Linked DNA regions of Homo sapiens: region 1 is linked to region 2. The links come from fine-mapping of genetic effects on gene expression. Tissue or cell type: fibroblasts. Region 2 holds a variant in brackets; the other region holds the start of a gene. All regions are shown on one strand. Distances are between the middles of the regions. Region 1 holds the start of MRPS27 (mitochondrial ribosomal protein S27). Region 2 holds the start of LOC107986422 (a long non-coding RNA gene).

Region 1 (8,338 bases), 29 kb after region 2:
CCATAATAGCCAGGCTGGTCTCGAACTCCTACCTTAGGAGATCCCCCAGCCTTGGCCTCCCAAAGTGCTGGGATTACAGGCGTGAGCCACCATGCCTGGCCTGAATTGTGTATTTTAAATGGATGAATTGTATGGCATGTGAATTATACCTCAATAACTCTGTTTAAAAAAATAGAAAAACAGCCAGGTGCAGTGGCTCATGCCTGTAATCCCAGCACTTTGGGAGGCCGAGGTGGGCGGATCACCTGAGGTCGGGAGTTCGAGGCGAGCCTGACCAACATGGAGAAACCTTGCCTCTACTAAAAATACAAAATTAGCCAGGCGTGGTGGTGCATGCCTGTAATCCCAGGTACTTGGGAGGCTGAGGCAAGAGAATCCCTTGAAGCCAGGAGGTGGAGGTTGTGGTGAGCCGAGATCACGCCATTGCATTCCAACCTGGGCAATAAGAGCGAAACTCCGTCTCAAAAAAAAAAAAAAACAAACAGAAAAAATGACAGATAATTATGCTGAGGTCACAGCAGACCAAAAGCCCAACACAACTAGATAGCATGGGGGCTGATTAAACACAGTATTGGAATGCTGTTTTTATTCTCTACCTACTTTCCAGCTCAAACAAATAAACAAATACAAACACATCTGTGTGAATTTATACACAGTTCATTCTCTTACTGTGAACACAGATCTTTACTAGAATAATATATCTAAATTTGAGTTCTACAAATTAAATAATGAGGCAACAATAAGGTTTCCAAAGACGCTTTCAAAAGGAGAACTAAGAAAAGACTATAATTATTTAAATTAATTTCCATTTATTTTTTCGTTTTGGAAATGGAGTTTCGCTCTTGTTGCCCAGGCTGGAGTGCAATGGCATGATCTCAGCTCACTGCAACCGGAAGGCGGAGGCCTTCCAGGTTCAAGCGATTCTCCTGCCTCAGCCTCCTGAGTAGCTGGGATTTCAGGCATGCGCCACCACGCCTAATTTTGTATTTTTAATAGAGACAGGGTTTCTCCATGTTGGCCAGGCTGGTCTCAAACTCCTGACCTCAGGTGATCCACCCACCTCAGCCTCCCAAAGTGCTGGGATTACAGGTGTGAGCCACCACACCCGGCCTAATTTTATTTATTATTATTATTTTTTTGAGATGGAGTATCTCTCTGTTGCCCAGGCTGGAGTGTAGTGGCATGATCTTGGCTCACTGCAACCTTTGCCTCCAGGGTTCAAGCAATTCTCCTGCCCCAGGGGGATGGTTCTAGAATACCCCCTCAAATACCAAAATCTGAGAATGCAGAAGTCTCTTACATAAAATTGCACAGTATTTGCAAATAACCCACAAACATCCTCCTGCATTACTTTAAGCTGGGGTGTCCATTTTTTTGGCTTCCCTGGTCACATTGGAAGAAGAACAATTGTCTTGGGCCACACATACATAAACTACACTAACACTAATGATAGCTGATGGGCAAACAAACAAAACAAAAAATGCTAAAAATCTCCTAATATTTTAGTTAAGTTTACAAATTTGTGTTGGGCCACATTCAAAACTGTCCTGGGCTGAGGGTTGGACAAGCTGCTTTAAGTCATTTGTAGATTACTTATAATACCTAACACAATGTAAACGCAATGTAAGTGGTTGTCATGTTGTATTTTCTTTGTATTATTTTACTGTTGTATTATTTTTTATTGTTAGTTTTTGTTTTGTTTTGTAGTATTTTGATCCGCTGTTGGTTGACTCTGCAGATGCAGAATGCTCGGATAAGGAAGCCAACTGTACTCCCGCATACCAGCTACTTGCTTACTCTCTATTTATTATCTGTTATTCTCTATGCCTTCATTCTAGCATATGCTTCATTCTAGCATAAGTAATCACCTTTCTACATTCTGGAGTCAGGACAATATCTAGATCATTGCTCAAGAGTTCTGAACTGGGAGATTAAAAAGCTGGGCCAGCTGGGCACAGTGGCTCACGCCCGTAATCCCAGCACCTTGGGAAGTAGAGGCGGGTGGATCACCTGAGGTCAGGAGTTAGAGACCAGCCTGACCAACATGGAGAAACCCCGTCTCTACTGAAAATACAAAATTAGCCGGGAGTGGTGGCGCATGCCTGTAATCTCAGCTACTCGGGAGGCTGAGGCAGGAGAATCACTTGAACCCGGGAGGCAGAGGCTGCAGTAAGCCGAGATCGTGCCATTGCACTCTAACCTGGGCAACAAGAACGAAACCCGAAAAAAAAAAAAAAGGCTGGGGAGGTGATTGTGGGGAAAGACAGGTCTCCCAAAATGCCCTCTGTGTGTAGTTGTTCACGGAAACCACATAAACAGAAAATAGCTACAACAGCTAATTCTTACTAAGGTGTCAAGCGTTGTGCATAACACTGCCTAATGTGTGACATTAAACGTTTTCACCAGGTCAGCCACTTAATCTTCAGAAAACTGGTGGCCAACTCTGAGGTTTCACATTGACGTTTAATGGCTGTTCCTAAAGAAGTGCGTGCTTTTTAAAAAAATAGAGGATGGGAGGTAGGTTGGAAAGGGAAGATAAGCGGCAATGGAAAAATCGAGTGTGATTATTGCATTTTTATCAAATATGTCTGTCTGGATTATGTGGTTAGAATCACTGCAAATTTGGCTTCTATAAATACTTTAAAACTTTTTTCCAATGTTTTCATTATCAGATCCACTATGCAGGCTTTGAGTGGGCTGCCATTTAGTTCAGATATCAAAGTATTTTACAAGTAACTAATAGCATTTATTATCTACACGTGGAAAACTATAGCAAAGAAAGGTCAATCAAAAGTTGTGCTCTAGGTCATCAGATAAAATGAGATTAATACTGAAAAATTCTTCCACGAAGACCAGGGGTCCAGCTAAATGTGTGGTGGTGGGAAAAATGTTTATCTGACGTCCCTCTAAAGAAACCTCAGATGGGAGAAAAATGTCCCAGCCCCAGGAATGGACACATTTAGGTTTTTCCTTTTTTTTTTTTTTTTTTTTTTTTGAGACAGGGTCTCGCTCTGTTGCCCAGGCTGGAGTGTAGTGGCGCGATCTCTGCTCACTGCAACCTCCGCCTCCCGAGTTCAAGCGATTATCCTGCCTCAGCCCCCCGAGTAGCTGGGATTACAGGCGCGCGCCACCAGGCCCAGATAATTTCTTTGTATTTTTTAGTAGAGATGGGGTTTCGCCCTGTTGGCCAGGCTGGTCTCGAACTCCTGGCGATCCGCCCGCCTCGCGTTCCCAAAGTGCTGGGACCACAGGCGTGGGCCACCGCGCCCGGCGCACATTTGGGTTTTTCGTGGTCAGCAAAAGCACGACCACCCCAACACATAAATCTGGCGAATCATACGCAAATTCCCTCATGCTATATAACCTTCCACTGCTCTTCGTACCTTTGGACAGGAACATACTGTTATTTTAGGGAAGGAAATGGATCAGATACCTTGTCTCCTTCTTCTGCACTACCAAACACCCCAAATGGCGTCCCTAGCAATCAGATTCCAGAAACGTTTCCTCTCCTCTTGAAAGCCCACCGCTCCCTTCACCCAAAAAACAGAATAATCAGGGGCCTAATGAAGCTGTCCGGCCAACCTGCAGGAGAGAGCTGAGGAAGAACCACTTGCCGCGCCAGGAGCATCCCGCGCCGCACTATGGAGGCAGCCATCTTGGAGCGTACCAAAAGGAACAGCCAACGGGTTACGGACAGAGGAAGGGGCGGGGTTACAGCTCGACCTCTCGGGGCGCCCAGAATTGGACGAATCCCTTTTGTCGCTCTCGACGACAGGACCGACGCTCCGCCTCCTCGCCCCGGTTCCAGTAGTTGGTATGGTCCGAGACAGTATGGCTGCTGCATTTCGGCCCTCGAATCGAGTTCTCCTGCAGGCGCTGCAGATTTTGGTGTATCCTGGGGTGGGAGGCTCCGGCTCTGTCAGCTGCCGCTGCCCTCTCGGAGGTATCCGCGGCTTTAGCCTAGGGAAGGAGGGGAGGGATGGGAGAGAAGGGAGTGTTAGATCCCAGCTAGCATCTCTGTGGAGCAGCCACAGCTCCTAAGTCACTCACTGGCCTGGAGCGCACCCTCGCCCTCTAGTTGCACGTGGGTGCAGTGGTGACCACTGGGGGTCGTGGATACCCCCAGTGCCTGCAAATCGAAGGACTGCTGGGGTATTGACCTTGGGGCTGTAGTGCTCCCTCAGATGGGGCGACGTTCGTCTTCAGGAACATCCCTCCCGCCTTGGGTGACTTTTATTTATTTATTTATTTATTTTTGAGACGAAGTCTTGCTCTGTCGCCCAAGCTGGAGTGCGGTGGCGCGATCTCGGCTCACTGCAGCCTCCGCCTCCCGGGTTCAAGCGATTCTCCTGCCTCAGCTTTCCGAGTAGTTGGGACTACAGGCGTGCGCCACCACGCCCGGGTAATTTTTTGTATTTTTAGTAGAGACGGGTTTCACTATGTTGGCCAGGCTGGTTTCGAACTCCTGACCTCGTGGTCCACCCGCCTCGGCCTCCCAAAGTGCTGGGATTATAGGAGTGAGCCACCGCGCCCGGCCTTTTTCTTTTCTGCAGAGTTTGGAAGCAGAGGTCTTATGGAGTCTCAGTTCTGCTAACAATCTAAAAGACTTAACGGCACGTTTCTTCATTTTTCAAAACTATCCTCTAACATCTCTATGAAGAGAGTTAAATCTGAAGATGCTAGTGAGTGATAGTAAAAATGTTTGTCAGGCATTACTTTAATGTAGTTTACATACATTAATTCCTTTTCTCTAGACAACACCCAGCAAGAGAAGTACCATTCTTTTCTCCATTTACAGAGGAGGAACAAGGTTAAGTAATTTGCCCAAAGTCAGAGGGAACTGTTAGAGGTGGGATTTGAACACACCCAACAATAGAAACCTGCTCCTAACCACTTCACTGGACTGCCTTTCTGTAAATAAATAGCAACTTTTATTGTTACCTTGTTACTGCAGCTCACAGAACTCTGTTAGTGCGTGATTCTTCGGCCACGCTTGGTCCGTTTTATCTCATGCACAGCCAAGGATCCTAAAGAAAGGATGATGTTTCCCAAATCTACTAAGCTGTGATCAATGATTTCCATGTATCTCAAATGTATTTTGAGTCCACATCTGAGAGGCCTTAACCCCCTCATTTCACAGAGGACAAAACTGGGAGTTCCAGTGGTCATGCTGCAGCTTTTTCCACTACACTGTGCTTCTCCCTGGATAAACCAAAACTAAATATGCCTGTTTTGCATTTAAATGTTATTAGTTTTTTTTTTAAATGCCCTTGATACCCTTAACCGATGGCAAATGCCCATTTGTACTTCAAATCCCAACTTCCTGTCAACCAGTCCCCACACAGGTTTATCACTAGCTACGGTTAATCACTAGCTTCTTTCACACACACAAATAAAACCTGTTTTGCTGAGGATTTGCATTCTCTGGTAGTTCAGAAATTGTTTTTCCCAGGATTTATATTTGTACAGTTTGTACAGTTATATTTGTACCTGTCTAATGGATTATCTATAATAGATGTTAGAGGTAATCCAGCTCTATTCATGTTATTTGCTAACTTCTAAAACAGTCAAAATGACTTTACTTTTTTCTTTCTCTGATTTTTAGCTAAAAGATACCTACTTACAGATAATGTGGTGAAATTAAAAGAATTTCAACAAAAGAAAGTGGCTGTTGCATGTAATCTTTCTGGCACTAAAGGTAATAGAATCTATTTTGTTAATTCTGTCATTTATCTGTCATTTAAGTTTCTCTGTCTTTATCCCTATTCAGTGTCTCCTTCAGTGACTTTATTATGCCTTAGAAAAAGTTGAGACCATTTATTGTTAGTTTCATAGTGAACTCTTATATTTATCTTGCATTTCATACTTTGCTGCTACAACGTCTACAGCTCTCCTCTTATTCCTTCTCTTACGATCCCAGAGAAGTATTAAAGCTAGTGCTGCGATTGGTCTTGTCTAAATCTGTGCCATTAAAAGTGAGGTTTGAGGACCAGCGGCATCAGCATCTATTGGGTGGTTGATAGAAGTGCAGAGAGAAAGGCCCCAGATCATTCATATGCACAATAAAGTTTAAAAACTTCAGATGATTGGCTTTCAAACTTTTTGATGTAACCTTCAGTGAAAAATGCATTTTATGTTGCATCTCAGTACACACAAACATATCTATATATAAATGAAATCAAATGAAACAAAACAGTACTATGTGTGATGATACATTTGGTATTTTTCACTCTGTGCTAGAAAAGTCAGTAGGATCAAAAATTTCTTAAAAAACAAGAGAAACCTGACTACCAAACCTAGGATTTGGCTGGGCATGATGGCTCATGCCTGTAACTCCAGCACTTTGGGAGGCCAAGGCAGGAGGATTGCTTGAGCCAGGGAGTTTGAGATCAGCCTGAGCAGCGTAGACCTCATCTCTACAAATTTTTTTAAAGTTAGTTGGGCGTGGTGGTGCATGCCTGTAGTCACAGCTACTCCAGGGACTGAGGTGGGAGGATTGCTTGAGCCTGGGAGGTCTAAGGTGCAGTAAGCCATGATCACACCACTGCACTCCAACCTGTGTAACAGAGTGAGACCCTGTCTCAAAAAAAAGATAAATCTGGGATTTGCTTTGAAAAAAAATCCAGTGTGTTTGAGGATTGTAGTGTAGAGGAAACATAATTAGCAAAATATTGATAATGATTGAGGCTGGGTAATGGCACTTAGTGAGGGGGATTATTATCCTGTTCTTTCATTTCTTGGGTATGTTTGAAAATTTTTGTTATAAAAAGCTACAAACAAGAACACCACCCTAGGTCTTTTTCCCTTTCAGCACCTGAAAAATCTTGTGCATTCATTCTCTCCCTCCTGCACATAGAGTTCTTCCCAGCATTTCATACCTTTTATTGTGTGTGGATGCAGCAGTGGTCCCTGGGGGTTGTGGATATACCTCCTTGATCCTCCTTTATGAACACATCTAAGACTTTCCTTTTTTTTTTAATAACTCTTGGTGTCCCTACTGACTTTTTCAACCATAGACCCAGCTCTCCTTCCTCTCACTGCCAGATGTTTGTGAGCTCCTGATTAACACATTAACATTCTCTTTGTTTTGGTTTGTTTTTTAAGAGACAGTCTCGCTCTGTCACCTAGGCTGGAGTGCAGTTGGCACCATCATAGCTCGCTGCAGCCTCAAACTCTTGGATTCAAGCAATCCTGCTTTAGCCTCCTGAGTAACTAGGACTACAGTGCCACCATACCGCCTAATTTTTAATTTTTAATTTTTTTTTGTAGAGATGGTCTCACTGTGTTGAGGCTGGTCTCGAACTCCCAGGCTCAAGCTAGTATCCCGCCTCAGTCTCCTAAAGTACAAGCGTGAGCCACTGCACCCATCCTGATACTTTCTGCCTCCATTCCCTCACAATTCAGTCCTCCAGAAATCAATGTTCTCTCGCTGCTCCGCTAATCATACTGTTATATAATACCATATAGGGGGCAAAAAAATAAACCTTTGGAATGGGGGGAATATATTTATCCCCAGTTGAGTAGGCTCAATCTAGATTTCACTTCAGTCTTTTCTTTCTACCCAGGTATTTTAGATCTATGTGAGGTTTGCAGTTAGGGCTTCATGTCATCCAGTTGTGATTTCCAGTTGTCATAGTCTTCATAAGTCTGTGGCAGTTGTGTACATGTTCTGAAAGGCAATTAATATAATCAGTGCCAATCTGCTCTATTGTCAGACTGATATGTTTAAAGTCCTGTCAACCTTTCATCATTTTGAGAGCCCACAGTGGTACTCTGTTGTATACCACACTATTAACATACTCATCTCTCTGGCATCCTGGCTCTCCCGTGATGGACTCCGCCCTTTCTAGGACGGTTTCTGGTTGATCTAGTCACAGCTTTTCCCTCCACACCTGTCATTCCCAGTTCTGTTCTGTTGCTCATGCTGATTTCCTTACCTAGAATATCCCCCTCCTCCATTTCTCCAACCTGATTTCAGCCCTTTCCTTTCTCACTGGTACCCCTCCACTTTCACCAACCTGGTCTGTTCTGAGTCATAATAGTAAAGGTTGTAACAGGACTCTTCTGTCCACTCTGAGTTGTAATAGGTGTCGTAACAGGACAGAAGAGTCTTATTATGTTTATAGTATTCATGTGTCACCTCCTCCATCATTGTTTTCAGGTAGCTTTGTATAAATTTAGCTTGCCCTCCCCAAAATGCTTTTAAGTTCTTTGAGGGCAGGAACTATTCCTTACGCTTCTTGGTGTCTCACACACAAAGAAGGATACTTCCGAGTATGATTATATGATAAACAAATGTTGATTGATTTGTTTTAAAACACAAGTTATATCTGTTGAA
Region 2 (8,338 bases):
CACCAACCCCCAGCTGTGGAAAAACTGTCTTCCACAAAACCAGTCCCTGGTGCCAAAAAGGTTGGTGACCCCTACCTTAGAGAACACCAAAAGCACAATCCATTAAAAAAAAAAAGTTGATAAATTGGACTTACATAAAAAATAAAAACAGGTTGGGTATGGTGGCTCATGCCTGTAATCCCAGCACTTTGGGAGGCCGAGGTAGGCAGATCACCTGAGGTCAGGAGTTCAAGACCGGCCTTGCCAACATGGTGAAACCCTATCTCTACAAAAACACAAAAATTAGCCAGGCGTGGTGGCAACTGCCTGTAATCCCAGCTACTTGGGAGGCTGAGGCAGGAGAATTGCTTGAACTTGGGAGGTGGAGGCTGCAGTGAGCCAAGATCGTGCTACCGCACTCCAGCCTGCATGACAGAGACTCCATCTCAATAAAAAACAAACAAACAAACAAAAAAAATTGACAAAAGATTCGAACACTTTACCAAAGGAAATATCATTACTCATTGGGCAAATAATTAAAGCCACAATAAGATACCACTAAACACATGTTGGTATGGCTAAATGTGTTGGCACAAATGTGGAGGAAGCGGAACTGCTGTTGGGACTATAAATGGTATAATCACTTCAGAAAACAATTTGGTAGTTTCTTAAAAAGTTAAACATTTACTTACCATATGCTCCAATCATTCTACCCCTAGCTATTTATCCCACAGAAATGAAAGCACGCATCTATACAAAGACTTGTGCATGGATGTCTGCAGCAGCACATACTCCTAGGGACTCAGGACTGGAGTCTGCAGAGGTACATAGTTAGCACACCAGAGGAATAAAATGGAATAACCATCTAAGGTATGAGATCATTCTGGGAAAGCTAGGTGGAATGCTTAAGCCAAAGCCAAAAAAATACCTTGAAGGTTCACTCTTCCTATGATGAGGCTCCAGATGAAATAATAAGACCAGTGGGAAGAGAAGTAGAGTCTGAAGCAGTGGAGGGCAAGAATTCTTTTTTTTTTTTTTTGAGATGGAGTCTTGCTCTGTCGCCCAGGCTGGAGTGCAATGGCATGATCTCGGCTCACTGCAAGCTCCGCCTCCTGGGTTCATGCCGTTCTCCCGCCTTAGCCTCCCATGTAGCTGGGTCTACAGGCGCCCACCACCATGCCCAGCTAATTTTGTTTTTGTATTTTTAGCAAAGACGGGGTTTCACTGTGTTAGCAAGGATGGTCTCGATCTCCTGACCTCGTGATCTGCCCGCCTCGGCTCCCAAAGTGCTGGGATTACAGGCGTGAGCCACTGCGCCCGGCCATGGAGGCCAAGAATTCTAATCCTTATCACAAAGCTCCCATGATCTCTGGCAATGCATGCACTATGACCAACGATCTGCTATTTTCCAGTACAGAGCTATTAACAATAATAAGCAATCTCCCAGGCCTGTGGTAAGGATCAGCAAATAAGAACTAAATAAAGAACTAGGCAATATTAAAGTATAGAAGTGCTACTAAAAAATGCTCTCAGACTCATTTCTCTCCCCTTGGGTTCTTACTCTTTTCTTAATAATGTTCAGGCATAATGCGACCTGGCAATATGCTAACAGAAAAATTTAAGATTACCTTTTATTGCTGTGAAACACAAAGTCTCTACGCCCTCAAAGGAAAATTACTGCTGCGTAAACGAATGCATGCTGTTCCCTCTTAATAATCCCTCTTAATAAACTCCCACCTTCCCCTTTTCCTACAGGCAGAAATGGATTTTTACAACATAGGCCTGGGGTGGTGCTATAGCCTTCCAAGGAACCATTGGGTATTTTTGCTTCATGAAAAATGAAGCTATTTTGGTCCTTCCTTTTTAGGCTGGCTGCCAACCCAGGACCTGGAGACATGCAGGCTGCCATCTGCCTTGGCCCAGCTGTTCCTGACCTGCTATCCATCTCCAACCAGGGATACCTGGGATCTGCCAGGTTGGCTAAGCAAATAGTGAAAGATACTTGAGACCCACGTACAGCATGGATGAATGTGTTGGCAGTACACAGCTTGCCACGCAATCTGAACTTCCTTTCTTACTGGGTGGCATGCCACTCTCCATAGCAACACTGAGAGCTGTATTCTGAGAAAAACTCATCTTCCACTGAGCTTTGCAACAGTCTTTTCTTATTGTATAACAATTCAGCATTCCCTACATGTTTGCTAAAAACTAAAAGGCTGCTTTAAAAGAATGCTATATTCTTTTTTTTTTTTGAGACAGGGGTCTCACTCTGTCACCTACGCTGGAGTACAGTGGTATGACCTCGGTTCACTGCAGCCTCGACCTCCCAAGCTCAGGTGATCTTCCCACCTCAGTCTCCCAGGTAGTTGGGACTACAGGTGTGCACCACCACACCCGGCTAATTTTTTGTATCTTTTTATAGAGATAAGGTTTGTTATGTTGCCCAGGCTGGTATTAAACCCCTGTGCTCAAGCAATCCGTCTGCCCCAAGTGCTGGGATTACAGGCATGAGCCGCTGTGCCTGGCCTAAAAAAAAATTTACATCCTTAATATAAGGAGTATATGTTATATATGTTAGAAATTTCTATGACTTATCCTTCAGGAATGACTGTTACGTTGCAGATCAAATTATCAGTTCTGATTATTGACACCCGGATAGTAGAAGGAGCAAGTTTAATTTCATACATCTCTAAACTACCATGGTCCCAACATGATTCGAAGGCCTATGTAAGCCTTTAAAAATGCAATTTGCAAATATCCTCAGTGAAGATGAGGACACTAAGTGGAAAGAGGAAATTTTTATGGCTTGAGTTTGCATTTTAGCAATGCAGTAATCAAATACTAACACAAGAATGGTTAAAGCTTGTCATAACCATGAAAATAATGGTTTTTGCCAATGGCACAATTTTACCAGTAACATGCTGTTTTATCTCCTGAAAATAGAGACATAGAGCCCGCCCCAAGGTTCACTTGTCTGCATTTGGGCAGTATACATTGGGCATGTGGACTTGGAGGTTATGGGGGGAAAGCTCAGAACTACAGACTAGGTGGCCCAGGAAAGATGCTCTCTACAAGATGAAAAAGGAAAAAGTTCCCATTGTATAAAACTCTACATACACTCACCATAACTGACTCCAGGCAGACAGATCCCTTTTAAAAGGGGATCTCTTATAGAGGAACAGCTAAGCCTGGTCTCTCTGGAATTTCTTCTGCCTTAGTTTCCTATAAAGAAATTGTAGCCCCATCTGCGATCCTTAACAATAAACCTTGCACTGAGACAGCACTGCATTGTTTTTATAGCATTGCCCCACTGCTCACATCTGATCCTTGTGGTTTCTCTCTCAGGACAGGCAGTGGCTTATACTTAAGTCTCTATGTTGGGTGTGCTCAGCCAATCTCTATGTTTTAGTCTCTGCATCAGTAAAATAAAGATGCAAATCTAATTCTTAGGAATGCTCTAAGTTTATAGTAAAGCAAAGGTAGGAACCCTTTTCTCTTCCAAATATTAACAAGAGGGCGTGTGGATAGGAAGTAGAAATTAATCCTTTGCCCAGAAAAAGAAAGTATTTTGCCTAACTGTTTTTAAAATTAACATGGGATATAAAAATTCTTTTAAACAAATATAAAAAATAAATGCAGTCTTTTTATGCCCACTGAACAGACATTTCCTGTCAGCAGCTGTTAGCTGAGCTGTTCTGTTACCTCTCTTTTCTGCGTCACAGAACCTTTGCTGCTACCACTGGGAAAGAGCATGACTTCTTACCTCACCAAGGACTGGGTGATGGTGATATCAAAATAAAGCGGAAATGCTCCTGTCTAGCACCCTGCCAGCGCTGGTCTCCTGACAGGTAGCATCTCAGGGCCTGTCCAAATCTTCTCACTCCTCACCACACCTTTTTTCCGGTGCTGTAGGGAAACTTGGGAGACTGGCTGTATCTAAATTTTCATTGTGAAGACAGAAAACCCATCAATTATATGCTTGTCTTACTTGGTAAGGTCTAAACTAAGAAAGTCTTCTTTGTAAGAAGAGAAAACAAAGACCCAGAGTATTTAAAACCCAAAAAACCTAAGGGAAGAAATAAAAATAAGTCTAAGCAAAAGAACCTATTTTTCAAACAAGATCTCACAGCAGGGTTCCTAACAATTTTTTGTCTTGAACCCTCTGGCAGTCTGATGAAGGCTTCTCAGAATTAGTTTCTTACAACAGAAACCAATTATATTGAAATACAATTATCAAGATATTAAGAAATCTTTGGGATATGGTAACATATGTGCTGCTTTATTAATGCATGAAATAA[C/G]ACTAGCTAGCGGTAGGTTTAATTACTAACATAATTTCTAAGCAGTGATATCTGTAACAAATGTAATGTGATATGAAAAAATCAATGATTTTTATTGGCAAGAAAGACACAGATGCTGTTAATATTATAGTCATCTGCTGCCTACATTCATAAATGAAAGAAATGCTAAATATTATTGAGGTTAGTGAAAATAAAAATATAATTTTATTCTTATGCAAGTTCACAGTCCTCTCTGAATTTTCTCTGTAGACACCGATAAGGCAGCTGGAGGCACAGTTTCTCTGGCAGAAACAGAAGCAAAAGCAAATGGCCTGTGGCAGCATGGTCTGGCCTATCTCCAGACCTATTCTTCCCCCAAGCCACGCCCTAGAGGGCCTATAAGAAACTAGCTCCAGGGCTTCTCAGAAGACAGCTTGAAAACCACTCATAAAGAGGTTTACCATTTAGCCTGCTAGTAATATCTGTGCAAGAGCACACCTATGCCTATTTTCCCAACCTCCCGGCTTAAACTATACATATCGTATAAAGTCCCTGGCTCAAATCCTTATTTCATTTTACTGTATTTATTTTTTATTATCTTATTTAAGTTTTCTTTATTTGTCACAGCCCAACAGTATGCCTTGTTTCCTTATTTTGTTTATTTTACTTTGTTTTAACTTTGTTGCTATTTTAATCACTTTTACTCTTGGTTTATTTTCCTTTTATATGGGTATTACCAGTTTTTTTTTTTTTTTTTTTTTGGCCAATGAATATAGTTGCTGGTATTGCCTTAATCATTTTTAGTTCACATTATTCTTTGGTTAGAGCTTCACCCTTTCCTTGGTGTTTTCATTTTTTATTTATAAATAGAAGGCAAAAGTTGATCATAGGATTGCCAGCTCCCAGAGAATAGACCACGGCCCAAATAAAAGTACTTAGAAATTTGTTCTCCTGCCTGCTGTCTGAATAGCAGCCTTTCTATCTCTCCTTAAAAGATCCCTTTAATGTTGAAGTCCCTAAACATTTAAGCCTATGTACTTTCAGAGATTCAAAACTTGAAATCTTCTGCTGGGATGATAGGGTGATAATAAGCTGGCAGGTACCAGCAGCACCCTGAGCTGCTGGAACTTGGAACTGTTTACTTGTGTGCCTGATGCAATGGCAGAAGCTCAATCAGCTCTTCACTGATCATTCAAGGTTTCTAAACTTCTTTGGCTCTAGACTTTACATAATAATTGCGGAAATTTGATCACTAGAAGAGGAGAAGATGTGGCAGCTACACTCCTGCTAGCAGAGCCTGGTGTTCACAGGTTATGTCAGAGAAAGAGGTGAACCAATGCCAAAGTTCTCCTGTGGGCTTGTCTGTTAAAGACGGTACTGCTTAAGGACTGAGAAATCCTAACCCCAGGCCTGCAAGCTGTGAGTTGTATAAAATTAAGAAGTTCCTTTTTCATTTCCTCACCTTAGACCTGGAATTGTAAGTTTGCTCCGAGATGTCTAAAGTCATCCCATGAGGAGATGTTAGGCATCATAATGATTGAAGGCCTAACTGGTAGAAATATTACACAGCAGTAAGTCCTTGGTGTCTTCAGGATTAACATCCCTGATTTTGATTACTTGAGATAAACCCCAAGAGTTTATAACTTGTAATTTTTAATTTTGCTAAGGCATAAGTATGTTCTGTATATTCTCTAAGGGTGGAAAGCAAGAGTGAGGCACTTAGCTAACGAGAGAACCCAGCCAATCTCCACTGTTCCGACGCAGCTTTGTAGAGTTCTACCTAGTCTCATATATATACAAGCACATGAAGTCATAAAAACATTTCTGTCTTAAAAAAAAAAAAAGCTGATAAAAAGAGAGTCAATTTTCTTGGTAATGGAAGGGAGGAGAAAGAACTAAGATAAACGATAAATCATAGCTAAAGAACTAGTTTTGATTAAAGCAAAAAATGGGATGTCCAATTAAACAGTGGCTCAGATTTATGATGGACAAGAGTCTTTTATTTGATCTATATGGAAATAGGACGTAGTGATCTTATGAAACTTTCAGTTATACCCCAGGCCACACAAAACTGAACATCATGTGAAGAATTAATCATAGAAGGTCTTAAAAACAGAATTTCAACTTTTCAGTAATACTTGGAGAATGTCTAACTTATTCAACATTAGATATCCAGCACCCAGGAAAGGGCCTGCGCACATAATAGGTGCTCGGTAAATACTTGTTGAAATGCTGAGTCACTGAAATCAATTTGATGCTACAGAAGTACTTCTGAATTTGGAACATACTTCTCCCAACACTATGGCACTGTATCTCACAGGATGAAATTCTAAAAAACAGTTTATATTTAGAAATTGAAACTATGTTCTGCATTTTGCTATAAATAAAAATATGAGAACTGGCCAGATGCCAGCCCAAATACACCCTTCATCACAGACAAAAAGTAACTACCAAAGCAGCCCTACAGTCCCAAAGAGCCACTAAAGGAAGGCAGGGCCACCTCTCATCAAGGGGTTCGTTTATCTTTATCCTAATGAAGTACAAGAGGGCACTCACAACTAAGATGACTTGCAACTAAGTTAGGACCTAAAATTTCAACTTAGGACATTGTTAAAGCCAATCTGAGATTTAAAATAAATGTTTTTTAAAGGTGTGGAATCTAGCCTACTTGAGGTTTACATTTAAATAGAAAATACCCAAAAAGTGGTAGCATCTACCCAATTCAGAAATTAAAAAAAAAGCCTCATTATTATTTAGCAAAATCAGAGAAAAACGAATACATTTTCACTAAAATACAGTAAGCTTTAAAAAATGCATCTAGAAAAAAACTACTCCCCAAAAAACCCCCCAAAACAACAACAACAACAACAAAAAATAAAAATGCATCTAGACAGAAACAACTAAAAATTCTCTTGATCAAAACAAGCAAGATCAAATGGGAAACTCTAATGCAATGCTTACTGGAAACATTTAAAATTTCAATCTGAGTCTATTTTTGGAACATAGGAACTGGAACAAATCACAAATCAGATTTTTAAAACTGAAATCGCAATAAAAATTTAGTTGTAAGGTACAATTCTGACAGATACTTGTTTGACCAGTTCTTTATTTAATGTGCATTAGGTTGTTTCAGTCTTTTGCTACCATAAATGATGTTGCACTGAACATACTTTTTGTACACATGGCTGAGTTTTGTGGGTAGTTCACAATGGAATTGTTAGCAGCTGTGAGAAAGAGTGAAGTAAATGTGGTAATGTAGAAAAGGTTTTAAAACAGTGTTAACTGAAAATAGGTACATAACAGTTCACATCGGGTAAAATTCCACCTGTAAAAAAAAAAAGGAGAGAAGAGATATACATACAGATTGAGTATCTCTAATTTGAAAAGTTCCAAAATCCACAATTTTTTGAGCACCAACATGATGTTCAAAGGAAATGCTCATTGAAGCATTGTGGATTTTCGAATTAGAGGTACTCAAACAGTAAGTATAATGCAAATATTCAAAAATCTAAAAAAATCCAAAATCTGAAACACTTCTGGTTTCAAGCATCTTAGATAAGAGATACTCAACTTGTGTGTGTGTGTGTTTGTGTGTGTGTGTATAAATTTTCACCTATCAGATTGGCAAAAAAATGCAAACATGTGAAAATACCTAACTATTGGCCAAGCTGTAAAAATACATGTCTCTCATACCTTGCTAGTGGGAATGTAAAAACTTCAACAGAAAGCAATTTGTCAATAGCGATTAAAACTATAAATATATATACTCATGAAAATTAGGTGAAAAATTACATACGTACAAGGTTATCAATTATAACATCGTATACAATACAAAAAAGAGAACAACCTAGAGGTCCATAAAAAGGGAACTGGTTTAAATAATAAACTCACAGTATGGAATAAAATGCAGTTATAAAAAATCAGAAACTCTCTCTATACTCATATGAAAAGATCTTTAAAATATAAACTTAGAAGGTGTCAAAATTATACACAACATATACCAACTTTTATGTAAAAAAGGGGTGTGAAATCACAGAGTACATAGCCAAATCAAATGGAAAACTTACTTGTAAAGGTAATAC

What was found. PIP is the estimated chance that this variant, and not a neighbour inherited with it, causes the effect.
Region 1: it holds the start of MRPS27, and the variant in region 2 is fine-mapped to the expression of MRPS27 in fibroblasts (GTEx, PIP above 0.99).

Annotation. Positions count from the first base shown.
Region 1 is chr5:72,316,567-72,324,904 of GRCh38, forward strand. MRPS27 (mitochondrial ribosomal protein S27) reads right to left here and starts at 3,674. Exons shown (of 11, transcript NM_015084.3): 1 at 3,583-3,674. The coding sequence starts at 3,655. It overlaps PTCD2 (pentatricopeptide repeat domain 2), which reads left to right and starts at 3,807. Exons shown (of 10, transcript NM_024754.5): 1 at 3,807-3,943; 2 at 5,606-5,698. The coding sequence starts at 3,817. RefSeq lists enhancers at 2,725-3,266, 3,267-3,807, 3,406-3,735, 3,796-4,005.
Region 2 is chr5:72,287,208-72,295,545 of GRCh38, forward strand. It overlaps MRPS27 (mitochondrial ribosomal protein S27), which reads right to left. Exons shown (of 11, transcript NM_015084.3): 4 at 8,324-8,338. LOC107986422 (a long non-coding RNA gene) reads right to left here and starts at 8,317. Exons shown (of 2, transcript XR_001742742.2): 1 at 3,743-8,317. The variant C/G (reference allele first, on the strand shown) is at 4,278.